4 linked regions of the Homo sapiens genome follow. The protein of the gene in region 4 interacts with the protein of the main gene of each other region in a pairwise test. Each region holds a gene or a part of one and is shown on either strand. Other genes may lie near its edges. The genes, in order: SPIRE1, BOK, EYA3 and ATP1A3.

The links.
Region 1: the proteins of ATP1A3 (region 4) and SPIRE1 interact in binary tests that used the Homo sapiens proteins (3 or more experiments, as listed by UniProt).
Region 2: the proteins of ATP1A3 (region 4) and BOK interact in binary tests that used the Homo sapiens proteins (3 or more experiments, as listed by UniProt).
Region 3: the proteins of ATP1A3 (region 4) and EYA3 interact in binary tests that used the Homo sapiens proteins (3 or more experiments, as listed by UniProt).

The regions. Positions count from the first base shown.
Region 1 is NC_000018.10:12,459,094-12,466,206, reverse strand, and holds part of SPIRE1 (protein spire homolog 1), read left to right. Parts: intron 1-1,248; coding exon 1,249-1,339; intron 1,340-2,713; coding exon 2,714-2,856; intron 2,857-6,278; coding exon of another isoform or gene 6,279-6,452; intron 6,453-7,113.
Region 2 is NC_000002.12:241,561,698-241,568,810, reverse strand, and holds part of BOK (bcl-2-related ovarian killer protein), read right to left. Parts: intron 6,464-7,113; coding exon 6,335-6,463; intron 1-6,334.
Region 3 is NC_000001.11:28,008,512-28,015,624, reverse strand, and holds part of EYA3 (protein phosphatase EYA3), read left to right. Parts: intron 1-2,330; coding exon 2,331-2,514; intron 2,515-4,538; coding exon 4,539-4,678; intron 4,679-7,113. UniProt on the Homo sapiens protein: Tyrosine phosphatase that specifically dephosphorylates 'Tyr-142' of histone H2AX (H2AXY142ph). 'Tyr-142' phosphorylation of histone H2AX plays a central role in DNA repair and acts as a mark that distinguishes between apoptotic and repair responses to genotoxic stress.
Region 4 is NC_000019.10:41,991,118-41,999,211, reverse strand, and holds the start of ATP1A3 (sodium/potassium-transporting ATPase subunit alpha-3), read left to right. Parts: upstream 1-4,981; 5' UTR 4,982-5,135; coding exon 5,136-5,141; intron 5,142-5,744; exon of another isoform or gene 5,745-5,780; coding exon of another isoform or gene 5,781-5,819; intron 5,820-5,985; exon of another isoform or gene 5,986-6,004; intron 6,005-8,094. UniProt on the Homo sapiens protein: This is the catalytic component of the active enzyme, which catalyzes the hydrolysis of ATP coupled with the exchange of sodium and potassium ions across the plasma membrane.

The sequences.
Region 1 (7,113 bases), on a different chromosome or scaffold from region 4:
ATATTATACTTTATTTTTGTTTAGTCTAAAACAAGTTAGGATCTCTTCTCACTGGTAATAAGAATTTTAATTTTATTTGGCACGATGTAGACATTTTTCTTTTTCTTTTTCTTTTTTTTTTCTGAGACGGAGTATCACTCTGTCACCCAGGCTGGAGTGCAGTGATGCGATCTCAGCTCACTACAACCGCTGCCTCCCCGGGTCAAGCAATTCTCCTGCCTCTGCCTCCCAAGTAGCTGGGACTACAGGCGCGTGCCACCACGCCTGGCTCATTTTTATATTTTTAGTAGAGGTGAGGTTTCACCATGCTGGCCAGGCTGATCTCAAACTCCTGACCTCGTGATCTGCCCGTCTTGGCCTCCCAAAGTGCTGGGATTATAGGTGCGAGCCACCGTACCTGGCCCACAATGTAGACATTTTTCTAGACTCATATGACATTTCATGAAATGTTTATTTTTTCATCCATTCATTCAACAAACACTCATTACTTACTAAGTGATGGGTTTGGTACTGGACATACATCAGTGAGCAAGACAGACCCAGCATCTGCTCCCATGAGGCTGACAATGTATTACTTGTATAAATGTATTAAATATTTCCCTAATAATATTAACCACTGTTTTATTGTGTGCCAGGTAATGTGTTAAGCATTTTGAATGCATTACCTCATTTCATCTTTCCAATAACCCTATGGAAAAAGTGATATTAAATACCCTCTTTCACAATGATGAAACTAAGATAAGAAACATGCTCAGGCCAGGTGCAGCGGCTCACACCTGTTACCCCAGCACTTTGGGAGGATCGCTTGAGCTCAAGGCCAGCTAGGCAACATAGGAAGACCCTGTCTCTACAAAAAATTTAAAAATTAGCTGGGTGTGGAAGTGCACACCTGTGATCCTGGCTACTGGAGTCTGAGGTGGGAGGATCACTTGGGCCCAGAAGGTAGACGCTGCAGTGGGCCCAGATCACACCACTGCACTGCTACCAGAGCAACAGAGTGAGACCCTGTCTCCAAAAAACAGAAAGAAGCATGCTCAGTTTCACATCACTCTCATCAGGGCAGAGCCAAGGCACAAACCCAGACCTGTCTTGTTTGAAACCCCTTCTAGTTTGTCTTTTGCTTGCCTTGAACCTTTGACATACTTTGGTGCCTCATGTTAAAATAACTGTTTAATAATAAAATGTTATTACGTAGCACTAGAGCACAAATGTCTAAGAAGTCGATTTCTCCACCTGTACTTTGCTCAGGAAGAAACGCTGCACAAGTCGACCAGCAGCAGCAGCGTGTCTCCCTCTTTCCCTGAAGAGCCAGTCCTGGAGGCCGTGTCCACAAGGAAGAGTGAGTAGTTGTGGTGCTAAGAGCTGTAGTCGGATGTCTTACTACAAAACACACTTGACCTAGAGCAGAGATCCCAGAGCGCCCTGTGATCATCTAGGGTAGAAAGAACTAACTCAGGCATTTCACTGATCGGGAGATGAAATACTTATTTTCCAAGAGTGGCATCATACCAGGCCTCGGGGTCTTATGACAGAGCAGGCACATGTGTGTTTACGAACAATAGTCATGGGAAATATTATAAATCAGTTGTGTGTGTAGCGTTCTGTTTTGTTTTGTTTTAGATAGATTACCTCCTTGGCTAAATTTAAACCAGAAGCCCAACACAACCATATTTATTATCATTCCACCTACCACCCACACACACCCATCTCCAAAAACCTGTGTAGATAGTGAAAACACCTTTATAACTCTTTAGGAGATAGATTCTGAACACAGATATCTAAAGTTAAGGGATTTCTAAAGGCTTTTAATAATCCTTTTCATTTATAAGAACATTATGAAGTATTAAAAATTATATATTGGCTTGATTTCTCATACACAAAAATTCTTTAAGTAGTTTTATTATTTACACAGATTATATCAAAAACAGTAGGTACTGACTATCCACAATTGGATATTATAGGGACCCAATTGAATCACATAATGGATTTCTGTATCTTTTCTTGACTGTGGAAATTATATCTGTGTTTTCCTTTAGTGGTTTCTCATGGTGGGACAGTCTAAATAGATGGATCATATGTAACTTTGTGTTGACTCTCACTTTCCACACCCACTACATTGAAGCAGCTCTACTCTGTAGATAGAGTAGGAGGAAGCACTAAATAAAACTCTGGCACCATAATTTATTTCTAATGTTCTCCTTTTGTTTTCAAAATGGGAATCCAGAACCGTTCAGACACTAAAGCAGTCTCCTTTTAAACAGTCTTAAAATATTACTAGGCAGAGAAGGACAATGGTACAATATTAACATCAAAGCTGAAGCTTACTTTTTGCAGTTTAAATACAGTTTAATTTAAACCTAAGGACAAAATGTCTTGGTAAACATGTAGAAAGAAGGATTTTCCTTATTTTATCTTTAAAAAGGAGAATGTAAAAAGAGGGTACATTGAGAATTTTGGTATGATTTGGGAATCTTTCTGGCTACACCTAACATTTTTCCTTTTTTCTTGCTATTTCTGTAGCAAGTTTACTTTGCAAAGATTCTTCTGTAACAGCCCTCAGAGTCTACTCCTAAGGATTACCATTACCATCTTAAAATATCTCTCCAATGAAATAAATAATTCATCTTTGAATTACAGTGTTTGTCACAAATGTCAAAAGGTTTTGTGTTAGAAAATTCACAGTAAGTTTTATTTCATTTGGTTCAATCTTTAGAGCCTCCAAAATTCCTGCCCATATCATCAACACCCCAGCCAGAGAGACGGCAGCCACCCCAGAGACGACATTCCATTGAAAAGGAAACGCCTACTAACGTGAGGCAGTTCCTGCCGCCTTCCAGGCAGAGTTCCCGCTCTCTTGTAAGTACAGGAAAGACTTTGTAGTAACTTAGGGACCAGCTAGAAGACATAGAATCATTAGCTTTCTTATGAAGATGATAAGGAGAAAAAAACTTGCAAAAGTTAGAATGAATTTTGAATAACTTACTTAATAGCTAAAGAAAACAAACAGCCAGGCGTGGTGGCTCGTGCCTATAATCCTAACACTTTGGGAGGCCAAGGTGGGAGGATTACTTGACTCCAGGAGTTCAAGACCAGCCTGAGCAACATTGTGAGATCCCGTCTCTGCAAAAAAAAATAATAATAATTAGCCAGGTGTGGTAGTGCACACCTGTGGCCCCAGCTGCTTAAGAGGATGAGGTGTGAGAGGATCATTTGTGCCCAGGAGGTTAAGGCTGCAGTGAGCTATGACTACACCATTGCACTCTAGCCTGGGCAGCAGAGTGACACCTTCTCCAAACTCTATCCATAACCTAAACGAAACTTGACCAGTGTTTGTTCATTTTGAGCTCTTTTTTTTTTTCAAGAAAATTTATCAGTGGTTGAAAGTATGGATTATTATTAAAGAAATGCTTTCTTTCTTTCAAAGGCTATTAATCCATTTAAAAATTGTTAAAAATTGACCAAAAAAACTCTTAGCAAAATGACTACAGTAGGTGATCTTATTGAGGCAGAAGTACAAGCGAGGGAGAATTTTGATCCATTAATAACTACTGTACATTGTTTTCTAGTATGTTTTGTGATATTTGGGGCCAGTGGTGTTATTTTGGTTGAACTGGTTTATAGTTTTTGCTGTTTTCCAGAGACTTGCAGGTTCTTATAGTGGGTGCTCATTTCTCAGGACAGTGGGCAGCACACAAGGGTTTGCCAGGAGGAATTAGTAGATCTCCCAGCCAACAGAGGTCTCCAAAGACTCTTTTGTAGCGCCACTTGGCTTCTGAAATATTTGTAGGCAAGATGCACAGCTGTAATTAATATTCTACCCACAGTCAAATATCTAATGTGTTTTCAAATATTCATGAATAAAAAATAATAGAATATATTGAATACTAAGTCCATTTTTTAAGGCTGTGATGAATTATTAGAGTTTCAATTAAAGTAATAACAGATGGGAGATAATGCGATTATTGTGAAGACAGGGATTTTGAACAGAGCTTAGAATGTTAATATTTGGTCATTCATCTCTATGCCAAAACAGTGCAATTAAAGAACTAATGATTTTATGGCGATTCCTGATAGGATTCTTCTAGCTCCAGAATAATCACCAAAACACAGCTATTCGATTAAATATAGCCTTGTCAGTGACTTACCAACAAGAAAACAGAACTCTGACCAGACAGATTCAAACGTAAAAATCTAAAAATTTGTTTTCATGTGAATAAGTTATTGCTTTTACCAAAATATACAGCTATTATCACAACTTTAAAATATGTAAGAGGGTCCAGGCACAGTGGCTCACACCTGTAATCCCAGCACTTTGGGAGGCCAAAGGAGGAGAATCGCCTGAGGCCAGAAGTTTGAGACCAGCCTGGGCAACTTAAGAAACCCCTGTCTGTACAAAATTTTTAATTAAAAACTTAGTTAGATGTGGTGGCGCATGCCCGTAATCCCAGCTACTCAGGATGCTGCAGAGGGAAGATCCCTTGAGCCTAGGAGTTTGATGCCACAGTGAACTAAGAATGTGCCACTCCACCCCAGCGTAGATGACACAGCAAGACCCTGTCTCTAAAAATATATATACACACATATGTGTATGTGTGTGTATATGTGTGTGTATGTATGTATATACATATGTATGTACATACATATACACGCATGTATGTATATACATATGTACGTACATACCACACATATGTATGTACGTACATATGTACGTGCATACACACATATGTATGTACGTACATATGTACATACATACACACATGTATGTATATACATACATACACACACACACACATACATGTGTATAGGTAAGAGGGAACTTGTGGTTTTTTTCATAAGTCTAATCATTAGGGTATTCTCTTCTTCACTCAGCTTTTCCTAGAAGCCAGTCTATCATTCAGCTTGTAACTGGCCTTTATGTGATCATACAATGTCATTATTGAGGTTAGACTTAAAGTTTAAAATTAGCAATGTAAAGGAACTATCAGCTTAGCTACAAGGTAGTTTCAGCTTATAATAGAAGTTATGCTGAGACCTTCAGCTGACCCCAAGGGCCCATGACTGTGTCTGTTTCCTGTTAAAGCAGAGCTCTTAGTGTTGCGAGGTCAGGCCGTGCACTGTTTTTTTGTGGAGCAGGAAGGAGAGCAAGATAAACTAACTTGCAATCACTGAGGAAGGTCTCAGTGAGCAGGCAGTGGGAGAGCCGCTCTGCTCAGCACTGAACAGTGGTCAGATTGAGGGCAGGGAGCAGAGTCCACGCAGGCCTCCAAGCACCAGCAGAGACGAAATGATCTTCCTTGCTAATAGCTTATCTTGGGAAATCCATAAAATCATACCTTGTAGTAATGCCCTATAGCTTGGTAAGTATTGTTTTTATAAGTGTAATTAATTTTTAAATGTAGCTGCATTTTAGAAAACAAAGAATCATTTTGTATTTGTAACTCCTCAACTGAAAATGGCAGGAATGTTTTTATTGTTGATAATTTTTTTTTTTTTTGAGATGGAGTTCCGCTCTTGTTGCGCAGGCTGGAGTGCAATGGCTCAATCTCGATTCACCACAACCTCCGCCTCCCGGATTGAAGCGATTCTCCTGCCTCAGCCTCCCAAGTAGTTGGGATTATAGGCATGTGCCACCACACCCGGCTAATTTTGTATACTTAGGAGAGACGGGGTTTCTCCATGTTGGTCAGGCTGGTCTCGAACTCCTGACCTCAGGTGATCTGCCCGCCTCGGCCTCCCAAAGTGCTGAGATTACAGGCGTGAGCCACTGTGCCCGGCTGATAATTTTTATTTTTGTTGTATCTCCCTCCCTTTTCTTGTGATGTTTAAAATGTCATTTTTTTTCATCATTTGGTCAAATAACCGAGGGCAAATGCCCATCCAGTCTAAAGGCACCTCGTGTTGGCAGTACCTTCCTGGGGCAGGTGCAAGTGGCTGCCTGGCACATGTCCCCATGCTTTCTCAGGCACAGTAACGAGTTGCCTCTATCCTTCATCACAACAAGCCCCACTGAGGAAACTCAGAGTGTTTGCAGGACCCTAAATTAGAAAAATCCTTGCTGTGTGAACGCTGAGATTCTCCAGGAAGGACTTCGTGGTTTCATCACTGATTTATACGTGTGGATGCAGATGTTCGCACGGACTGTACCAGCCTCATGGTGTTTTTTGTTTTGTTTTCCTTTTGTGATCTGTAATCACTATGTGTAGGTCACTTGTGTTCAGCATTATTTTCTCCTTTTCTTTTCCCCCTGCCATTTTCTTTTTCCCTTATCTGTTGTTCAGGTTCCTAGGATAACCAGTGTATGGCCAAGGACGCCTTTTCGACCACTTTTTTCTACCATACAAACAGCTTCTCTGCTCAGCTCTCATCCTTTTGAAGCAGCCATGTTTGGGGTAGCAGGGGCTATGTATTATCTGTGTGAGAGAGCTTTTACCAGCAGGTGGAAATCCTCAAAGGTTGGCCTCTTTCTGCTGGGTCTGGGATTATTTCATTCTCTGTATCTCTGACGGTGACACCTCAACTGTTGCGTTCTCTGAGAATTAACCGCTTAGATAGCACTTTGCTTCCAATCATTGATTCCACCCTTGTGCAGGATGCACCGATCATGCCGTGGTCTCAGTTGAGGGAAATAACTGGGAAAGGACAACAAACTCAAAATGCAGCATCTGATGAAGGGGACCTGTGGGTGTTTGTCTCCTCGGGTGACCTAATTGTATAGCAGAGTCAGTGCTGCCACCTTTCTCCATGTGCAGCAGGCACTCTGAGCCCGTGGGGTGCATTCCTCCTAGGGCCTCCCCCCACCATCAGAAGAGTATTTGCTCACTCATTCCGTGAGCAGAGCATCCTCCTGCCAGGCCAGGTAGCCATGGTGGACTCCGCCCACCCACAGACACCTGCACAACCAGGGCATGGGCTCAGGAAACCTGTGTGCTCCCATCACCTGTCATGAAGCTGTGTTATGACAACCAGGGTGTGTACGTCACTTCTCTGCAAAGAGAAATTTCAAGTTTCCTTTTTAATGATGTGGCTATTTTAAATAATTCTGCATTATATTACTGTTTTTTGAGGTTTTTTTACACAGAATAATATATCATTATTTGAACCTTCACAATTCTA
Region 2 (7,113 bases), on a different chromosome or scaffold from region 4:
ATTCACAATTGCCAAAAGGTGGAAAGAACCCAAGTATCCTTCAACAGATAAATGGATACAAATGTGGTGGATGTTACTCAGCCACAGAAGGCAGGCTGGGCACAGTGGCTCACGCCTATAATCCCAGCACCTTGGAAGGCCGAGGTGGGCAGATCACCTGAGGTCAGGAGTTCAAGACCAGCCCGGCCAACATGGTGAAACCCCATCTCTACTAAAAATACAAAAATTAGCCGGATATGGTGGTGGGCGCCTGTAATCCCAGCTACTCGGGAGGCTGAGGCAGGGCAATCACTTGAACCCAGGAGGTGGAGGTTTCAGTGAGCCCAGATCGCACCACTGTACTCCAGCCTGGGAGACAGAGCAAGATTCTATCTCAAAAAAATAAATAAATGGCTGGGCGCGGTGGCTCACGCCTGTAATCCCAGCATTTTGGGAGGCCGAGGCAGGTGGATCACGAGGTCAGGAGATCGAAACCATCCTGGCTAAAACGGTGAAACCCCATCTCTACTAAAAACACAAAAAATTAGCCGGGCATGGCGGCTGGTGCCTGTAGTCCCAGCTACTCGGGAGGCTGAGGCAGGAGAATGGTGTGAACCCAGGAGGCGGAGCTTGCAGTGAGCCGAGATCACGCCATTGCACTCTAGCCTGGGCAATAGAGTGAAAAAATAAATAAATAATAAATAAATAAAAGAAGGCATGGGGCTCTGAGGCAGGCTGGGCATGGATGGGCCTCAAAAACACATGCTTGGGTGGAAGCTGCCAGGCATAAAAAGCCACATACAGTGTGAGTCCGTGGATGCAAAATGTCCACAACAGTCAGGGACAGAGCTGGGACGCAGGCTCACGGCTGGCAGTGGGCGAGGGGTGGGGAATGGCGGTGGCGGCCACGGGCACAGGCATTCTGGGGTGATAAAGACCTCCTGAGACTAGTAGCTGGTGGCTGCTCCACACTGGGAATGTGGCAGATGCTGCTGAATTGCACACTTTTAAGTGGATAATTATGTCATGTGAGTTTAACGTCAATTAAAAGAAATGGGGAAAAACACAACTCAGACCATGTCACTCCCCTGCATAAAGCTCTCGTGTTGCTGTGACTTCCCGTGTCCTTCAAAGTAAACCCAAGTTTGAATTCCCAGCTGAGCTGGCCCCTGGCAGACTCCAGCCCTTTTCCTGCCACCCCAACCTCGAAGGTGCCCTTGTCATTGGTGGGATGCGCACACCCGGCACAGCCCCTGCTCTACCCGCTGCACTTCCCCAGCACGTGGGGCTGTTCCTCCTTCAAGGGCACGGCCATGCGGGGAGCGGAGCCTGATGTCAGCACTGCGTGTGGCTTGCGGGACAACCTGTTCTGAGGTGTCCGGTTCCATCAGAACAGTGCATTCCACGCTGGGTGCGGTGGCTCATGCCTATAATCCTAGCACTTGGGGAGGCTGAGGCAGACGGATCACCTGAGGTCAGGAGTTCAAGATCAGCCTGGCCAACATGGTGAAACCCCATCTCTACTAAAAATACAAACATTAGCCAAGCATGGTGGCGGGTGCCTGTAATCCCAGCTACTCAGGAGGGTGAAGCAGGAGAATCGCTTGAACCCGGGTGGCGGAGGTTGCAAGATCACAACTCTTCATTCCAGCCTCGGCAAAAGAGCAAAAATTAAAAAAAAAAAAAAGAACATACTATGTTCCGAGTGATGGCAACATTTCCACTCCAGAGGGGTGGATGGGAAAGAAAGACAGGAAGACAGGAGTCCGGAGGCACCAGCCTCGGCGTCCACTGTGTCCTTCCAGCTCTTCTGTGTCTTTTTAACTGATATAATTCCATTACCATAAAATTAATCTTTTAAAAGTGGGATATCTTTGAGCATATTCACAAAGCTGTGCAACCATCACCTCTATCTAATTCTAGAACATTTTCATCATCCCACGAGAAACCCCATGCCCACTAGCAGTCACTCCCTATTTCACCGACAGCCCCTGGCAGCCACTCATCTTACTTTCTGTCTCTGTAGATTTACCTACCCTGAAAATTTCACATAAGTGTAATCACACGGCTTGTTCATTTTGTGTCTGGCGTATTTCACAGGTTGAGGTGGCAGGAAAAGGGCTGGAGTCTGCCAGGGGCCAGCTCAGCTGGGAATTCAAACTTAGGTTTACTTTGAAAGACACGGGAAGTCACAGCAACACGAGAACTTTATGCAGGGAAGTGACATGGTCTGATTTGTGTTTTTTCCCAGCACTGTGGGAGGCCGAAGTGGGTGGATCACCTGAGGTCAGGAGTTCGAGACCAGCCTGGTTGACATGGTGAAACTCTGTCTGCTAATAATATAAATAATACTAACAATACAAAAATTAGCTAGGCGTGGTGGCACATACCTGTAATCCCAGCTACTCGAGAGGCTGAGGCAGGAGAACTGCTTGAACCCAGGAAATGGAGGTTGCAGTGAGCCGAGATCGCACCATTGCACCTCCAGCCTGGGCAACAAGAGTGAAACTCCATCTCAAAAAAAAAAAAGAAAAAAGAAAAAAAAGAAAGAATAGGGTCTGCCTCTGTCACCCAGGCTGGAGAGCAGTGGCACAATCTCGGCTCACCGCAACCTGCGCCTCCCGGGTTCAAGCGATTCTCCTGTCTCAGCCTCCCGAGTAGCTGAGATTACAGGCATGTGCCACCAAACCTGGCCAATTTTGTATTTTTATTAGAGACAGGGTTTCTTCTTTTTGGTCAGGCTGGTCTCAAACTCCCGACCTCAGGTGATCCACCCACCTCGGCCTCCCAAAGTGCTGGGATTACAGGCGTGAGTCACTGCACCCAGCCATTTTTATTTTTCTTATAATAAAACTATAATTAGAAGAATTATATAAAATTACATATGTATTTATAGAAAATACAATTCAAATTCAAAGAAAAAAATAAACACTATTGCCAACTTTTAAATGGGGAGGAAAATTGAGTTCTACCACTTTGGAGATGAGTTTTTCCAAAGTCCTGAGCAGGAACTTTGAAGCCCTAAATGAAAACAGCCAGAAACAACATTTGTTGGCCTCTGCCTTCGTGGGAGTCTCCTGGGGCTGGAGACTTGGAGACCCCCACGGAGCCCTGCCCTGCAGCCCTCACACGGCTCACAACACTAGCCAAGGCCCCAGCCCTGAGGTGCGGGCTGTGCAGCTTGCCTGCAGTGGAGGGGCTGGGCAGGGCGCACACCCTCAAGGGCGCCTGCTAAGAGGAGGAGAGGGAGGAAGACCGGGGGTCAGAGCGTGCAGGGATGGCTGGCGTGGGAGGGGCCTCAGGCAGGGAGGCAAGGATGTGTAAAGCACTTGGAGGCTGGAGGCTCGCCCTGTAGACAAAAGGGCCCAAGAGGACTGGGATGGACAAAGGTGAAGGGGGCTGGGGGTGCAACTGCCAGTGGGCCTGAGGGGCAGAAGGGGCGGCCCTGCCCTAGCTCCCTAGTCAGGTGGCTCTGGTTCAGGGAGGTTCAGAAACCCGTTGCAGGTCACGAGGCTCTTGGGCTTCAACCTGCGTGGCTCCCCTCGGGCAGGGCCGCCTCAGAGTAGCAGCAGGTGGGGGTGTGGGGGCTGCCACATGGCCAGAGCCGGGCCTGCGTGGGACAAGCCTGGGGCGCTGGGTGGGGTGGGGGATGCTGACCACAGGGGAGTGGGCTCCGGTTTTCCAGTGAAAACAAGACTTAAACTGAACTCTACACATAGCCCGGGCCACCTGGCCGGTGCCGCCCACATTCCCCGTCAGCTGTGTGCCCGCTCGTCCAGCCATCCCCTTCCCCTCAGCCCTCCCTGGCCCCCAGGTGCCCTCCCAGAACCAACCAGAGCCTTCCTAGGCACCGCCCCCACCTCAGGCCAGGCCCTGCTCAAGCAAGGCCGGGCGGGTAGGGGCATCCTGGCCCCATCCTCTCTCCCTGCCGAAGGGGGAGGCGCCCCACCTCTGGGCAGGCTGCTGCATTCTCAGAAATGACTGTTCCTTTTAAAGCCAGCCTGCAGCTCGTAAACCCAGCGGCCCCGAGACAGACACCCGGGTGGCCACCCACGCGCCGGCGTCGGCCAAGGGAGGGCTGAGAGTGGTCGTCAGCCCAGGATGCCTTCCACCCCTGGCTTCCTTCCGGGGCCCCACCCACTGCCTGCCCCGTGCCTGCCTGGGTCACCCTGGCGGCAGGAGGGGCGGGCACCAGCTTGCCAGCTCCTGCCACCATGCTTCCGCTGCCCACTGTGCCGTGAACCCTGCCCCCTGCCCACCCGGCCCCTGAGCCACACCACCTGCCCACTCCCCAGCCCCTACCCATATGCACCCCCAGCCGACTCAGGTCTGCCCCATGACACGCCTCAGCCTGGCCTGGGCCCGGCCCCCCACCCTCAGCTGCCACGTGGGGGCCTTGGAGCCAAACTGCCAATGAGGATTCATTTACGATCTCCCAAAGGAACACAGGAGCAGTGACAGAGTCCAGGCTCTGAGGCCACCCCAGGAGCGCCAGACAGGGAGTCTCGCCCGCACCCAGCTTGGTTCCGCCTCCTGACCCCACACCACAGCCTGAGGTCACTGCCCCTCCCCAGGTGTGGTCTGAGGCACTCCAGCACATGCTGTGGCAACAAGACAAGCCCGGAGGCAGGACCAGACCCCGCCTGGACTCCCATCCCTGGACTCAGCCTTCCCGCTCCAGCAGCCTGCCAGGTCGCCGCTGCATCCCAGCCACAGTAACTTCTGTCCAGGGAGGTCAGCAGTGAGCAAGCGTGGCACTGGAGAGGCCGGATTCTGTCAGAAAATGCTCGCAGCCCCCGCCGCCTTGGCCTCCAGCCGAGGGTGTCAGCCCCGCTCTGTCCCCATCTGGCTGGCCCACCAGGGGTCGGAGGAGACGTCTGGGAGAGGAGCTGGAGGACACCCCACAAAGGTGGGGTCTGCCTGAGCGAGAGGCAGTGGTCCTCACACTCCTGGCCTCTTCCCCTTGCCCTCCGGTGGGTGGAGGTCCCGAGGCCATCTGAAGACCCCTGGCTCTGAGGGTCACCCCGTGGCGTGGGATGCATCTCCCACAGCGAGGGTGTGGCTTCCTCTGGCGCCTGATGCCTGGCTCCTGCTGCTGTCAGGACTGCCTGGAGACAAGGCAGCTGAGGCCACAGAGATGACAGCAGGCCACAGTCACACAGCTGACTGGCCACGGACCCACACCAGCTCCCAGACAAGGGTGTGCAAGGCCTCCCTGCTGTCAGGGGTCTTCCAAAAAACTGCCCCAGGGGAACAGCATGCCCCTCCTCCAAGCTTCAGGGAATCCTGCGCACCCCGGGGTTCACTGGCCCAGAGCTGTGCCCAGCACCTGGACAGCACTTGGAAAACAGCTGAGGAATGTGCCAATCAGGGAGGTGCCACATCAGGGCCGGCGCACCACTCACCCCAACAGCAGCACCCAGCGCCTGCCACACCCAGGGGCAGCTCATAGCACGGGGTGCCAGGACAGGACCCAAGGTCACAGAGGTCAAAGGCAGGGGGCTGAGGTCTGCAGGGCCAGACCTGATGACATGGGGCAAGCGGACAGAAGCCACACTGGGCAAATCCAGGCCAAGGCAGCTGGACAAGTGGACAGCGGGCACCGAGTAGGGGAGACAAGCCCTAAGCCTCCCGTGGGCCTAGAAGCATGTGGACAGCCGGGAGCAGCAGGAGCAGGGAGGCAGGGCCAGGAGATGCCTCTCCAGGGCAGAGATGGGAGCGCACAGGAGGGTCACAGGTGAGGCAGGCACAGCCAGGTGAGATGCGCTGCTGTTCTCCGGATGCCCTCCGGGAGCCAGTCTGCTTGGACCCCCATGCTCTCCCCTCTCCTGGACGCTGGAGCCCTGAGGCTCGCTTCTGACCATCAGAATCCAGCAGAGTTACCCGTGACTTCTGAGGGTATATCCTAACAGCCTGGCAGCATCTACTCGGGAGCTGTCTGGGAAACCTGCTCCTTGCCACTCCTCCTTGGGACACAGCACCATGCTGTGAGAAGCCCAAGCCCCGCTCGGGGGCCCCTGCAGGAAACCAGGCAGCCCTAGGACGTGCCACCCCACAGGACTGCAGGTCACGCGGCCCCACGGATGCTGGACCACAACTACAACCAATCAAGAAGCCTGTGCCAGCTGCTCAGCATGCCCACCAGCCTGCAGAACCACAAGAGACCCTGAATGCTGTGGTTTGAGCCCACGCTGGTGGCTGGGCAGCTCCTGACACCTGCAGCAGTGAGATGGCACCGGTGGGCACTGGGCAGCGCCAGGATGGGTGGGGGCCAGCTCGTGGGGTCCCTGTGAGCCTGAGCCACAGACCCTGGATCCCTCCCTGAGGTCCCATGGGACGGGCAGGCTGGGCATACCTGCAGAGAAGATGTGGCCAGCCACGGCCAGGAACGCATCGGTCACCACAGGCTCAGACTGCAGGGAGATGTGCAGCTGACGCGCCACGTTGCGGTAGACGCTGGGCCGGATCATCTCCAGCTCATCGCCTGTGTGGTCACAAGAGCAGGTGAGAGGCAGCCCACGTCCCAGCTTCCTGGGACACGACTGGCTTGGGGCACACCCTGCACCTGACCCCCACCTGACCATGCTTGAATTCCAGCCTGTTCCTCACTTGTCTGATTCCCACCTCCACTTGACCCCATCTGACCTCCCTTGGGCCATCCCCCAACCTTGGCCCCTAGGGACCAGAAGACCAAGGAAGTACTGAAGGCGCCCCCAGTCCCGCCCCTCTGACGAGCCAGCCCCTAAGCCTAGCCGGCCAAGCCGGTGGGGCGGGAATCCTGCGAGAGCGTGGGCCGTGCCTGCTGGTGACTCACAGCCGACAGGCAGCCGAGCTGCCCAGAGCAGGAGGGACCAGGCAGACGGCCAGACCCCGACGTGGGGAGGGGCTGGGCAGAGAAAGCACTGGGGTGAGAGCAGGGGAGCCCGACGTGGGGAGGGGCTGGGCAGAGAAAGCATTGGGGTGAGAGCAGGGGACAGCCCGAGAGCCCGGCTCAGGCCCTAGCATGGCTCAGGGACCACTCAGATGCAGAGGCTGAGCCGCTGTCCTGGGCCACCCGCACTGCCACGCTCCCACCTGGGCTGGCTGGGCCGCTGTCCTGGGCCACCCGCACTGCCACGCTCCCACCTGGGCTGG
Region 3 (7,113 bases), on a different chromosome or scaffold from region 4:
ATACTATCTCATTAATTTTTTCTAAATCCCACTTTTTGTCATGTTACTGACCTGCTCAGAATATTTTCATGTTTTTTGTTTGTTTGTTTGTTTTTTGAGACAGAGTCTCGCTCTGTCACCCAGGCCAGAGTGCAGTGGCGCAATCTCTGCTCACTGCAAGCTCCGCCTCCCGGGTTCACGCCATTCTCCTTCTTTTCATGTTTTTATTCGTTGGTTTGAATTTGAGAGTCCCCATTCCCTATTCCCTAGCCCACAGGCTATATACTATTGCCTAAAGAATCCAAGTCTTATTGCTTTACCAATCATTCAGGCCTACAGAGGTCCTTTGTTTCAACCAGACTCAGCATCTGTGGTCCCTGAATAAAATCTCCTCAGAGCCTATTCATGTTCTTACTTTCTCTGCCTATTAATCTCAGAAAGCTTCTTCACCATCATACTTTACAATGATAGTTGTCTGTTCTGTATTTCAGTCATTTGACATATATTTTATTGCCATTTTGTTGTCTGTCTTCTCTCCTGCTAGATTTTTAACTCCCTTGAGTTCTGCTAGTGTGACTTATTCTTTTCTTTAATATTTCCTTCTTCTGCCCATGCACAAATACACACATACATATAATTATATTTGGTTTATGGTAGAGATACCCAATGACTAATTAGAAATAATGTATCTGATCAGTTAGCTTTTTCCTACTTGCCATCATTATCAGTGTCAATGGAATTTTTTTAGCTGCGTATTTGAACTGTCATACCTAGTTTTTTTACAGCTTTATTAGGGAGTAATTGACATACAGTAAACTACACAGATTTAAATTGTACAGTTTAGTAAGTTTTGCCATATATGTGCCTATGAAACCAAAAGTTTTATCCCAATATTTTAAGAAACCTTTTTTTTTTTTTGAGACAGAGTCTTGCTCTGTTGCCCAGTCTGGAATGCAGTGGTATGATCTCAGCTCACTGCAACCTCTGTCTCCCAGATTCAAGCGATTCTCCTGCCTCATCTTCCCTAGTAGCTGGGACTACAGGTGCATGCCACCATACCTGGCTAATTTTTGTATTTTTAGTAGGGGCTGGGTTTCGCCATGTTGGTCAGGCTGGTCTCAAACTCCTGACCTCATGTGATCTGCCTGCCTCAGCCTCCCAAAGTGCTGGAATTATAGGCGTGAGCTCCCGTGCCTGGCCTTTTTTTTTTTTTTTTTTTTTTTTTTTTGAGACAGTGTGTCACCTAGGCTAGAGTGCAGTGGTGCAGTCTTGGTTCATTGCAACCTTTGCCCCCTGGGCTCAAGTTATCCTCCCATCTCAGCTTCCCGAATAGCTGAGACCACAGGCGTGCATCACCATGCCTGGATTTTTGTTTGTTTGTTTGTATTTTTAGTAGAGAGAAGGTCTCACTATTTTGGCTAGGCTGGTCTCAAACTCCTGAGCTCATGCGATCCTCCCACCTCGTCCTCCCAAAGTGCTGGGATTACAGGCGTAAGCCACTGTTCCCGGCCAGGAAACTATTTTTAAAGAAAACTTGATTGTTTTAGGTAGATAATCAGGTTGTTTTTTGTTTGTTTTGTTTTGAGACAGGGTCTCGCTTTGTCACCCAGGCTGGAGTGCAGTGATGCAATCTCGGCTCACTGCAACCTCCGCTTTCCAGGTTCAAGCGATTCTTGTGCCTTAGCCTCCCAAGTAGCTGGGATTTCAGGCATGTGCCACCACGCCAGGCTAATTTTTGTATTTTTAGTAGAAACAGGGTTTCACCATGTTGGTCAGGCTGGTCTTGAACTCCTGACCTCAAGTGATCCACCCATCTTGGCCTTCCAAAGTGCTGAGATTACAGGCATGAGCCACTGCACCCAGCTGATAATCAGTTTTTAAATTAAGACATTTTAATGTAGGATATGTGCTTTTTTTGTTTGCTTAAGTTTAAGTTTTGTTTTGTTGTCCTTAGAAGTGCTATTATCTAGTGCAACAGTTTGTAAACCTCTTAGAGTAGAATCTTTCCCTCAAATTCTGTGCAGAAATTCGGTACATAAAACTGGGGGAAGAGGCTGTTAGAGTACAAAAAGGGACACCATGTGTATGTTTATGAGAGTACAGAAGACCCTTCCCTCTCAGCATTTCCTCATTCCAAGACTGCTCCTGGGACATCTCTTGACTTAGGTTTCCACAGAATGCATTTTGAAAATCATTGATTTAGATTGGAGACTTTTAGGTAGGTAAATGAGAAGTCAAATTAATGTTTTAGAAAAATAATTATGAATAAGAAAGAGGGAGAAGAAAGCCTCTTGTGTTGAGATTAATGTATGCTATAAGAGTCTTGTTTTCTTATTTCCTTTGGCCTGCAGGATTATCCCACCTATACTATTCTTGGTCAGAATCAGTACCAGGCCTGCTACCCCAGCTCCAGCTTTGGAGTCACAGGTCAGACTAACAGTGATGCAGAGAGCACCACATTAGCAGCAACCACATACCAGTCGGAGAAGCCTAGTGTCATGGCGCCTGCACCTGCAGCACAGAGACTTTCCTCTGGTAAGCACCGCAGCTCTGAAAACTTTGGCTTAAGGTCACTTCATCCAACAGTTGTTTTTAGGCAATGGTAAGGATGATTTTGTTCTGTCTTAAGTCATTGTTACCATGCTTTTGGCTTTCCCTCTGAGGTGAGGAGTATTGGAAGCAGGCTGTGAGTCATTGGTAGGCTGAATGTATACCTGATGCTGAGAACGGAACAGAAAAGTATCAAGAACTAAAAGACTCTTTCTGACTCGTACTCTACCCTCCCTGTAGCTTTAACCCACTTGCCACAGGGAGCTTCAGCATGTTATAATATTTTGTAAAAGTTGGAGGACTCCAGTTTTAGTCTTGCGCAGGTTTTGAACTGCTGCTAAGGCCTCAGAGCCATAGTTCTTTCTATGTCCAGGATCCCTTTAAGATTCTGAGGAAAGCATGGTCCTTTTCCCTCAGAGAAATATATACAATTTAACCTACAATTTCAGTATGCTCACAGCTCTGAAGTGTATCAATGAATTACAGTGTCCAACTTAAAAACCTTTGACATAAAAGATTAGACACACATTTAATAAACATATATATACACACACTTTTTATTTATATTTAATGAAAATTTGGTAGTTGGCTTTCACATCATGTGGTTCGAGGAAAGCACTGTTTATCATTGGCACTGATGCATGTTTAGAAACAGTACTATATAACAAGTGAACAGTTTTCTGTGCGGTCACCCTACCAGTCTAATAAGTGGACATACAAATGGTCGCCACTTCAAACTTACATAAATTTGAAATAATTACAAGTGTTGATTAAAAACTAAGGTTTTAAAGTCATTTTTCTAAATATCTTTGTTATAACAATTTTAACTTTTGAATATTGGAGAATTTCAAACATAGAGAAAAGTTGCAAGGCTAGTGTGATGAACACTTACATATCCATCATTCATCTTCAACAGTTATCAACTTATAGACAATTTTGTTTCAGCTATACATCATCTAGCTCCCTCCCCAGATTCCAGGCATTGTTCTCTAAAAGATAAGTATGGTACTTATTAACATAACCACAATGGCATTATCCCATCTTTAAAAGTTCAATATTAATAATGTCTTAATTTTGTATTATCAAGTACCAAAATGTATTTGTATTTCCAGCTTTCTCATAAATGTTATGAGTTTTGTTTCCCTTTTGTTTAAAGTAGGATCCAACCCATTCCACAGTGTATACATATTTCAAAACAACATAAAGCATATACAGTTTTTATCGCATTAGTAAATAGAAATAATAAATAAATAGAAAATTTGAGGAGGGAAAATTAGGATCCAAATATAAGGTCCATAAATTGTGATTGGTAATTATGGGTATTTTGTGTTTCATCTCTATTTTAACCTATAAATCCTCCCGTCTCTTTTTCTCCCCCTTGTAGTTTGTTTGTTGAAGAAACTGGAGTGTTGATCCCATACTGTTTCCCAGTCTGAATTTTGACAGTTATATCCTCATAAGGTGGTTTAACATGTCCTGCTGCCTTCTGTATTTTATAGTAAATTGGTGAATGAACAGTTGTTTTCAACTGTTGGCAATGTATGGAAACATTTTTGGTTGTTACACTAGGTGGGGCGGTGCTTCTGGCATCTAGTGGGTAGATGCTAAGGATACTGCTTAACCAAACATCCTATAATGCACAAGACATCCCCCCACAACAAATAATTATCTGATCCAAAATGTCAGTTGTGCCAGGTTGAGAAACTCTAATCTACAAGTTTGACCATGAAGATTCAGGTTCAGCTTTTTCTTGGCAAAACAACTTCATTGATATTTTCTTCTATCATGGGGTAAGCATATAAAGTCTGGTTATAACTTTTCTGATGTTAGCCAGTGCTGATGCTCAATGCCTAGATGTACACTTCATAATTGCTTACATAAGGTTTAGCTTTCCAACCTTTATCCCTGCATTATGACTCACAAGGGCAGAGAGTCCACTAACCCTCTTCCTGCCCTGATTCTTATAGCCTGTGACTCCTGACAACATATGTTTCACTTTTTCTTTCCAGGAGACCCTTCTACAAGTCCATCTTTGTCCCAGACTACACCAAGTAAAGATACTGATGATCAGTCCAGGAAAAACATGACTAGCAAGAACCGGGGCAAGAGGAAAGCTGATGCCACTTCTTCCCAAGACAGTGAATTAGAAGTATGAGAAGAAACTGATTTAGTTACCTACTTTGTTCTTTCTCACTTCTTAAGTTTATCAAACATGTTTTTGAAGCTCACAGAGATAATGTGCACTATGTTATGTGCCCTTTAATTCCTGAGCAAAATAAACTAAATTGGCCACGTTAAAAGAAAAATGTAAAAAGAACAAATTATTCTGTATATTCCAGAAGAGAACAGAAACAATTCATCATATTCAGAAAGCAGAGGGAGTTACAAGTAAAGTCATACTGTTCTCTATTTAAAATTTTAAAAGGGTCAGGTGCGGTGGCTTACATCTGTAATCCCAGCACTTTGGGAGGCTGAAGCGGGAGGATCGCTTGAGACCAGCCTAGGCAACATAGTGAGACCCCCATCTCTAAAAATATATATATACAAGAATTAGCTGCACACCTGTAGTCCCACCTACTTGGGAGGCTGAGATGGGAGGATCACTTGAGCCTGGCAGGTTGAGGCTGCAGTGAGCTATGATCGGGCCACTGCACTCCAGCCAGGGCAACAGAGTGAGACTCTGTCTCAAAAAGAAAAGAAATTTAAAAGGAAAGGACTAGAGTGCTTTTAGCCAAGTTTCTGTAAGGCGCAAACAGATCTGGTAACTTATTAATGAGACTGGTGCTGATTTATTCTGTAGTGTAAGTACTATATGAGTTTATTATGGACATACATTTGACTTCATCATTAAAGACATAAAGGTCATGCAGAGTGCTAAAATTAGTGGAGTTTTTGTATTATCTTTTTGTTTTCTGTTTTCCGTTTTTCTATAGTGCTATTATGTACTGAGGGGAAAATACATATTTAACTATGAATCCATTGATAAGTGCTCTTAAGACATAGGTGAACTGAGCCTGTATTTGAAGCCTTTTCTCTTTTTTCAGAGGTTTGGAGTGAAGAAGAAAGAAAGAAAAAGTAAATTTCTGATATATTTCTTAGGAAAAACTGATAACTCATTTTTTAATTGTCTAAAATATACATAAAATTTACCATTTTAGCCATTTTTAAGTGTACAATTTAGTGTCATTATACATTCTCAATATTGTCTAACCATCACCACTGTATATTTCTAGAACTTTTTCATGATTCCAAATGAAAACTCTGTACCCATTAAGCAGTAACTCCCCATTCTCCCCTTCTTCTAACCTCTGGTAACCTCTATTCTACTTTCTGTCTTTGACTTCTTATTCTAGATATCTCATATAAGTGGAATCACAGAAAATGTATCCTTTTGTGCCAGACTTATTTCATTTACCATAATGGTTTTTTGTTGTTGTTGTTGTTGTTGTTGTTGTTTTGAGATGGAGTCTCAGGCTGGAGTGCAGTGGCACGATCTCGGCTTACCGTGACCTCTGCCTCCCGGGTTCAAGTGATTCTCCTGCCTCAGCCTCCAGAGTAGCTGGGATTATAGGTGCACACCACCATGCCTGGCTAATTTTTGTATTTTTAGTAGAGACAGGGTTTCAACATGTTGGTCAGTCTGTTCTTAAACTCCTGACCTCGTGATCCGCCTGCCTCGGCCTCCCATAGTGCTGGGATTACAGACGTGAGCCACCATGCCCTGCCTACCATAATGTTTTTAAGGTTCATCCATGTTGTAGCACATACCAGAATTTCATTCCTTTTTATGTCTGAATATTTTATTATATGTATATACCACATTTTGTTTATCCATTCATCTGTTGATGGACACTTGGGGTTTGTCACCTTTGTGCTATTGTGAGTAATGCTGCTTTGACCATTGGTGTACAATTATCTATCTGAGTTCATCTTATCAATTCTTTTTGGTATATATGTAGGAGTGGAATTGCTGGATGCTATTGTAATTCTGTGCTCCACTTTTTGAGAAACCACCAAACTATTTTTCATTGTGGCTGCACGGTTTTATACTCTTACCAGCGATACATAAAGGTTCCAGTTTGTTCACATCCTCGCCAACACTTGTTATTTCCCATTTTTTTGATAATAGCTATTCTAATGGATGTGAAGTGGTATCTTATTGTGGCTTTGATTTGCATTTCCCTAGTGCAGTGGCACAATCTCGGCTCATTGCAACCTCTGCCTCCCAGGTTCAAGCAATTCTTGTGCCTCAGCCTCCTGAGTAGCTGGGATTACAGGCACATGCCACCACGCCTGGTTAATTTTTGTATTTTTAGTAGAGACGGGGTTTCACCATGTTGGCCAGGCTGGTCTTGAACTGCTGACCTCAGGTGATCCACCCACCTCAGCCTCCCAAAGTGCTGGGATTACAAGCATGAGAACCTTTGCCCACTTTTAAACTGGGTTGTTTGGTTTTTCATTGTTGAGTTGTAGGAGTTCTTTGTATATTCTATATTAATATTCTAGAATATTCTAGATTATTAATCCCTTATATTAATCAGATATATAATCTTCAAATATTTTCTCCCATTCTGTAGGTCGTCT
Region 4 (8,094 bases):
GCGGCCCGAGCCGGGCCCTGCTGTCACTGCGCGCGGTCCGCGAGATGCGCCTCAGCAACGGCAAGCTCTACTCGGCCGGCGCGGGCGGGGATGCGGGCAGCGCGCACGGGGGCCCGCAGCGCCTCCTGGACGACCCGGGGCCCCCCAGCGGAGCCCGACCCGCCGCCCCCACCCCCTGCACCCACGTGCGCGTCTGCCAGGAGTGCCGGCGCATCCAGGCGCTGCGGGCCTCGGGGGCCGGCGCGCCTCCGCGTGGCCTGGGCGTCCCCGCCGAAGCCACCAGCCCGCCCCGGCCGCGGCCTGGCCCCGCCGGCCCCCGGGAGCTGGCGGAGCACGAGTGACCACGGGCGGGGCTGTGCGGGCGCCCGGACTGACCGAAGGGACGGGGCCCGCCCCAGGCCCCAGCAGTCTCCGCTCCCGCAGCGGGCGCGGGACAGGACTTGTGCGCCGGCGCCCCGGACGCCGCGATTTTGCCTTTGGTTCCCCGCGAAGTCCGAGGCCTGGCTCTGGAGCCCGCCTGCGCCCCCCAGTGGACTCGCGAGAGGGTGCCGCGGGCGAGAAGGGCGCAGGAACCGAGGACTCCAGGGGCTGGGGACTTCGGGGGCGGCTCTGGGAAGCGGAAAGCAGTCAGCGGAGAGGACCCCATTCTGGGACTGCTCAGGCTCCCCAAGACTTGACGCAGCCCCCCACGCTTCTGGAGGTGGGGAGGGCCTCTGGACAGATGGGTGTCCCCTGGTGCCCCTCCACTCTTCTCTTCCTCTCTTTTTTGGGGGGAGAAACCTCGGAATTTCTATGAGACCTCCCCCAGGGAGGGGGTCAGTTGGGCCCCCATCCCTCCCCTTGCCACATCGCAGCCCCTGTTGGAATAAAAAAAAGAACAAAACCCCAGAACTGGGGATACCGTCTCTCATTTCCTGGGGGTGTGAGGGCTTTGGAGGCTTGGGTCCCCGGGGCACCTGCTGAGAATCAGAGTGAGCCTCGATGGTTACTTCCATGCTCTCTCCACCCTCAGCCCTGCCTACAGGCTGCAGGCCAGCCCGGGTCCCAGCAGCTGGCCCCTCTCCACTGACCTTCTCTCAGGACAGAGGGAGGCTGCGACAGAGACCCTGAGACAGATGGAGAGATGCAGGGATCTGGAGACGCGGAGACACCGGAAGCGGAGACACAGAAAGACAGAAAACAGATGGGGCTGGGGGAGGGGAGGGCCAGTGAGCTGTTGAGTGTGGCCGTGCCTGGGGTGGCGAGTGTGTGCCTGGGCCGGGGTGATTCAGTGACGTTGTGATCGTGTGTGCACGCATCTGCGAGGCCATCTTCAACTGTCTGTGGCTGTGATCCCGTGTTTCTGTTGAAAATGTACCTCCCCAACCCCCAAGAGAGGAAGTGAGGAATCCCAGTAGACTGGGGGGTGGGTGGGCGGGCAGGGGTGGGAGAGGCTGAAGGGCTGATGGCGCAGGAGAAAGGTGGGTCCGCCTTCTGTCCCCGCCCTCCCTGCCCCGCCGGAGGTTTCTGTGGAAACTGCAGCTGAGGAAGGACGAGTGAAGGTCACACAGCAAGAGCCAAAACGAGGCCGAGCAGAAAGGGAGAGATGGAGGGATGGCGAGAGACAGAGATGGGGAGAGACAACGAAGGGGGCAGAGTGGGCGGGAGGGGGATGGGGAGAGAGAGCTAGAGGACACAGAGCCGGCGAGACAGGGAGAGAGGCTGGGTGAGGTGAGAGAAGACTGGAGAAAGAATAGAGGGCTGAGACCAGAGGTGAAGCGGGAGGGTAAGATACACCCGGAGTTGGGGTGAGAGACAGGAAGCCATAAAAAACTAAATGGAACCTGGAGGGGACTGGAACGGAAAGGAAAGCCTGACTGGAAAGGTCCCAGAGAGAGCGAGGCTGCGCCCGTTCCTGGGCGGCGGCCCGGGGCTTGGGAGCTGTCCGTTCAGCACCCAGTTGGCCAGCCTGAGCCCAGAGCGCCCGACTTCCCTCCAGGGCCCGCCTGCCCAGCGCAGTCCTGGCAGGCCGGCCACACCCTGGGAGACCCCTCCCCGCACACAGCGCCCCCCGTCGCCACCCGTCCCCTTCTGCGTCTCAGACCCTGGTTGCGTGCCCCTCGGACAGGTGTGGGGGCAGGCACCAGCCTCTCTCTGTTGTCTCGCATCTCTATCTCCACGTCTCTTACACACTCCAATCAATGTCTCTGCCCTTGGGTCGGACTCTTTGTCGAGGTGACTAGAACATGATTACAGACATTTCTGGTTTCTCCCCCTTCTCTGTCCCAATGCCTCGAGGCCAATTCCCTCTGGGGTCTCCCCCATTTCTGAGTCCCCGGTCCCCTACCAGGTTTCTGCTCAGTCTCCCCCTGGCCTTTATCTCTGAGTCTCCCTGGTTTACCAAGCCTGTCTCTGCCTGGCTGTCTACGTCTCTCTGTCTCTGTCACCTTCACTGAACTCTTCCGTTGCTCTGTCTCCGTGTTCTCATCTCTGCATCTGCCAATCTCTGTCTGTCTTTTTCAATCTGTTTGTATCCGCCTCTCTCTGGTTCTGGGCTGCCTGTTTCTCCCTCTGTGTCTCTCCTTCCGCCTCTCACATCTAGCTCCCCTATTCCCCTTTATCCCTGTGACCTTCCCAGGTCTTTCCTTCTCACCGCCCCCCCTACTTCTGCAGAGCCTCACCAGGAGCACGATGCACAGTCATCAGTCTCATCAGGCTCGTGCCTGAGGAGAGAGTGCATGAGGGGGGACGTGAGCTTGTGTCTGAGGTGGGATGGGAAGGGCTCAAGGCCTCCCCCGGCCCAGCTGGAGAGCAAGAGCAGACAGAGCCTAGAATCTCCTGGAATCCAGGCCTCCCCCACCTCCCCAGGCTTCCCCATCTCCCCAGTCCCATTCTCCATGGTCCAGGCCCATGCCTCTAGGCCAAGGTGTCAAGAGAAGGAAAGGAGGATATGTTGATAGGCTCTCCCTCCCCTAGGAAGAGGGCAGAGTTGGGGAGGGGGCGTCTGGGGGTGAGGCATCTGGGTTAAAAGATGTGGCTCCTCCCCCTTTCCCAGTCTCCATGGCAACAGCCCAGTCTGCAGGCCCAACCTCCTTTGCTGCAGAAGCAGCTCCCTGTTACCATGGCAACAAAGGACAGCGAGAAAGATGGGGACGGGTCAGAGGACAGGATTGGGATGGGGCTCTGGGCACTGGGGAAAGCCTCCATTCACTCTCTGGCCTTGTCTCTGTCCATATGCTGTGGCTCTGAATCTCTGTGTTTCTGTGCCTCTCTCTGGCCTTCAGCCTTTCACACATTTCCCTGCACCAGGTCCTCGACCTTCACCCACCCACCCTCATACACCAAGCTCACTCCCTGTCCCTTGCCTGCGTCCCCCACATCTCCTATCCCATAGGTGGAGAGGATACCCACATTCTGAGAAAACTACAAGGTCAAATGCTCTCTGTCTCTCTCTCTCTCTCTTCCCCTTCTACCATCCCCAGGGAGAGTCTGGGGTGTTCCTCATAGAACAAAGTGGTGTTGGAGTGAGTGGGGAGGCCTCAACTTCTTGGGCTCCAGTGGGGTGGCTGATGGGGTGTTGTGTGTCGGCAGCAGGCCTGGGGTGTGGGTGCCGGCTGTGCATCTGTGTGTGTACATATACTGTGACGAGCTCTGTGTGTCATGTGGGTGAGGGCGTTGGGGTGTGTTTGGAGGTGCAACAAAGATGTCTGCGATAGTGCTGCAATAACGTGATGTGTGTATGTGTGGGAGGTGTGTGGGTGTCGCGTGACTTGTGTTTGAATTATTGTGCTATGTGTAAGTGTGTGCACCTTTTTGTCTGTCATTCACAGTTAGCATTGGCAACTTTGCACTGTGGGCCGTTGCTCATGCCCAAACACACTGGGGAGCAGTGTGTGTGAGGATGTGTGCGACATCGTGGGATCATGCAACGATGTCCACAAAGGCTGATGTAGTGTGTCTGGAGGCAGTGTGAGGCCTGTGCGTGTGTGATGGTGCTGAGTGCAGGTGTGTGTTGGTTTATGGGTTGCACGATGTGGGTTTCTATGTGAGATGGTGGGAGGTCAGGTGTGGTAGAGTGTGTGATGTGTGAGTCTGCGATTTTCTGAGTGTCGGTGTTAGTCCGCACAGCACTTTGTGGCTGTGATTATGAGTCTCTTGTGGTGTGATGGGTGTGTAAGGTGTGTGCCCTATGTGTGTTTCACTCTATGTTTGAGACTCTGTGTGTGGTGGGGTGGTGTTGTGTGTGTGAGGGTACATGCTGGCCTATGGTGGAATATGAGTGCAACCCTGTGGTGTGTGCGTGTCCCCAGCATCTGGGCTATCAGTGTGATGGTCCTGTGTAACTGTGACGCTGGGCATTTTCTGGGCCTCCTGGGGCCATCCTCCACCGTGTTGTGTCTCCCGTGTACCCTGTGTGGTTGTGGCTCATTGGATAGCTCAGGCGTAGTGGGGGGGCACCCACAGTGAGGGAATCTCAGGGCTCCTCCCGCCAGCACCCCTCCTCAATTGCAAGGCCTTTCTTGCTCTCTTGTGTTCCCTTCCAACTTCCCCTCCTGCAGGGCCCTCTCCCTGAACAGCACTACCCCCCGCCGTCTCCAGGGTCCCTGGTGCCACACTGCAGTGATTCACCGGGCTTCCCTCCCACCCCGTGTCACTACCCGCCCCCCCTCCCCCAGCGTACCCTTCTCGGTGATGGCACACCCCCACAATGAGAGGATTTCCGGGGTTTTCTTTCCCTGAGCGCCCCTTCTTGGAGGCCCTACTCCATATTGAGGGGGTCTCCAAGTCCCCTATTGCGGAGGTCTCTGGGAATCCCCCCACCCCCGCAGCGCTCCCCCTTCGCGGCCGCGCCGCCACTTTGCGGAGCCCAAGGGGAGGACAGCTGCAGTACCAGGGGCGGGGCCGCGGGCCGTCCGTCAGCACGGCGGCGCCCCTGATTGGCCAGCGCCGCCCCCCTCCCGCGGACGCGGGCATATGAGGAGGCGGAGGCGGCGGCCGCCGCAGCCTCTGTGCGGTGGGACCAACGGACGGACGGACGGACGCGCGCACCTACCGAGGCGCGGGCGCTGCAGAGGCTCCCAGCCCAAGCCTGAGCCTGAGCCCGCCCCGAGGTCCCCGCCCCGCCCGCCTGGCTCTCTCGCCGCGGAGCCGCCAAGATGGGGGTAGGTGCTGAGCCGGCTGGGCGCCGCTTCCGTGTGACATTGTGGGGCCGGTGACATTGGGTGTGCGCGGGGGGCGGGGGCACCGGGACCCCTGCGCTCCGGGGCCAGGCCTGCGAGACCCGGGGAGCCGGCTGACCCAGCCAATCCATGTGGTCGTGGGGCCGCAGGGGGCGGCGGGGGGTCTGTGGCGCACGTTGGCATGGCTTTGTGTGCGGAGATCCGCGAGGTTGTGGGCCAGCCCTCAGCATCTCCGCCTGACCTTGTGCGGTTGCATGTGCACAGTTGCATGTGCGTATGAGAGCTGCTGGCTCTGTCAGGCCCTGGCAGCGAGTGTGTGGGCCCCGTGGTGTCTGAAAGTCTGCGATCGCGTCTGGGTGTGTCTGTGAGAGCTCGTGTTAGTGCGTCTGGGGTTATTGAGGCCCCCCTGCTTCCCTGGCAGGGTGCGGATAGGTCCACGTTGTGGGATGGACACCAGATGACCTCTCTTTCTCCTTCCAGGCCTGGATGGGGGGACTCCGCAGTGTGTGTGTGTGTGTGTGTGTGTGTGTGTGTGTGTGTGTGTGTGTGTGCAGGCTCCGCAGTGTCGCAGCCTGGGGCTGCAGTGTGTGTGTGTGCAGCCCCTCATGTAGGGGAGCAGGCATGGGAGGCTGGGAGGAGGAGAGGAACAGGAGAGCCACGGTGGGGAGACTGAGTGCACAGCTGAGGGTGTGCGTGTGCAACTGTGTAGTGGGGAGCGTGCATGCCTGGCTGTGTCCTTGCCTCTGTGTCCGTGTGTCCTTGTCTGTCTGTGAGTCTCTCCAGCAGATGCCGCCTCCCTCCCTGGCTGACCACCTGACCCTTGCTGCAGCCCTGGATTCCTCCCTGTGTGTCTGGGGCGGGGCTGAAGGGAGGGGGAATCAGGAGAGGAGGGGGTGGGTGGGGGTAGGTGGGATGAAGAGGGCGGGAGAGGCCAGTGGAGGGAGAATAGGAGGGCTGGGGAGAAAGATGGCGGATAAAGGCTGATGGGCCCAGGGATGGAGGTGGGGGATGGGGCTGCAGATCTGTGGGGTGGGGCAGGGTGGGCCGGGGGGCTGGGAAGGAGGATTGGGTTGGGGCAGGACTAGGGGAGAGAAGGGAGAAAGGGGTAGTCAGTGATGGCTGTCAGGTAAGTGGGATGGAGGGAGGGAAGCTGTGGATGGATTGGGAGAAGACTGATGCTAAAAGCCCTAGAGAAGGAAGTTAGAGGGAGGTGGTCTTAGGAAACGGAGTGGGGACGAGAGGAGAAATGAAGGCAGCTTAGACATGGGAAGGAAAGACAGAGACACATGGAAAGACAGAGATGCTCTGAAAGAGACAGAGAAAGAGACATGGACATAGAGACAAAGAGACAGAGACAAGCAGAGAGACATGGCTGAGACACATGGAGAGACATTGAGAGAGAAAATGAGAAACTGAGGCTCAGAGGAAGAGACACAAGGACAGATATTTCCTATCTAGCGGCAACCACAGTCAGCCTGAGGGACAGGAAGAGGAGGCAGAGGGCAAAGGGGGAGGTCAAGGGAGGGATGGTCAGAGATGTGGGCCAGGTCCCCTGCGAGGGGGAAGGGAGGCCGGCCCAGGCGCAGAGGCTGCGGGAGCTGGCACCAGATCAGGGAGAGGCGGACAGCATGGAAAATGGCAAGGAGCTGCAGAGGCGGCCACAGCGAGACAGGCATGGTCCCCACCCTTGGAGGTGCTCCCACCCCGCAGCGCGCCCATCTGGGCCTCCTGCCTTGACTGGGAAAGCCTCAGCTGTGCACTCCAACAGATGGGAGCCTGCTCCCCAAGGGGGTCTGGCTGTGTCAAGGGCAAGCAGGAGCCAAGGCCAGGGCCAGGGTGAGCCAGGAGTCCCAGGGTCCCGGTCCCTCCTCCCTCAGACCAGGAGTCCAGGCCCCAGCCCCTCCTCCCTCAGATCCAGGAGTCCAGGCCCCAGCCCCTCTTCCCTCAGACCAGGAGTCCAGGCCCCAGCCCCTCCTCCCTCAGACCAGGAGTCCAGGCCCCAGCCCCTCCTCCCTCAGATCCAGGAGTCCAGGCCCCAGCCCCTCCTCCCTCAGATCCAGGAGTCCAGGCCCCAGCCCCTCTTCCCTCAGACCAGGAATCCAGGCCCCAGCCCCTCCTCCCTCAGACCCAGGGGTCCAGGCCCAGCCCCTCCTCCCTCAGACCCAAGGGTCCAGCCCCAGCCCCTCCTCCCTCAGACCCAGGAGTCCAGGCCCTGGCCCCTCCTCCCTCAGACCCAGGATTCCAGGCTCCCAGTCCTTCCTCCCTCAGACCCAGGGGTCCAGACCCCTGCCCCTCCTCCCTCAGACCCAGGGATCCAGGACCCCAGCCTCTCTCAGTATCTGAGAGTCCGGCCCAGCCCTTAGCATTTATGGGGCCCCGAGCATCAGCTCCCAGCCTTCAACTAAGGTTTCTGGGTGGGCAGCTGATTTTCTCCCTCTCTCTCTCCTGACCCCCATCTCACCCCTCTCCTGGCCTCCTGCACAGGACTTGACCCCAGGCCTTTGTAGCTCCACATCTCTCCATCTCTCCATGTCTCTCCATCCTGGGTCTACCCCATCGGGCAAAGCTGAGACCACCCCGGCACTGTAGGGCAGTAGGAAAGATGGTCTCCCCGTCCCCCAAGCCTCTGTGCCTCCGCATCTGAGACGCAGTGCTGCTGCAGGGCTGGCGTGGGGCCAAGCCTCCCTCCCACCCCCTGCACCCCTTCTTGAGGCTCCCAGATCTCCAGGCTGCTGCCCCTCCCTGCACACCCCCACCCTCCGACTCAGCCTCTGGGTCTGGGGGCAGACAGCAGGCAGCTCAGGCCCTCTACAAGGTCACGAGGAGATTAGCGCTGAGCCGCGCTGAGCCTCCGATCCCAGCTTGGCCCTGGGCCTGCGGGACCTGTCAGCGGCCCCTGCAGCACCCAGCCTCGCCCCACCCCTCCCACCAGCCT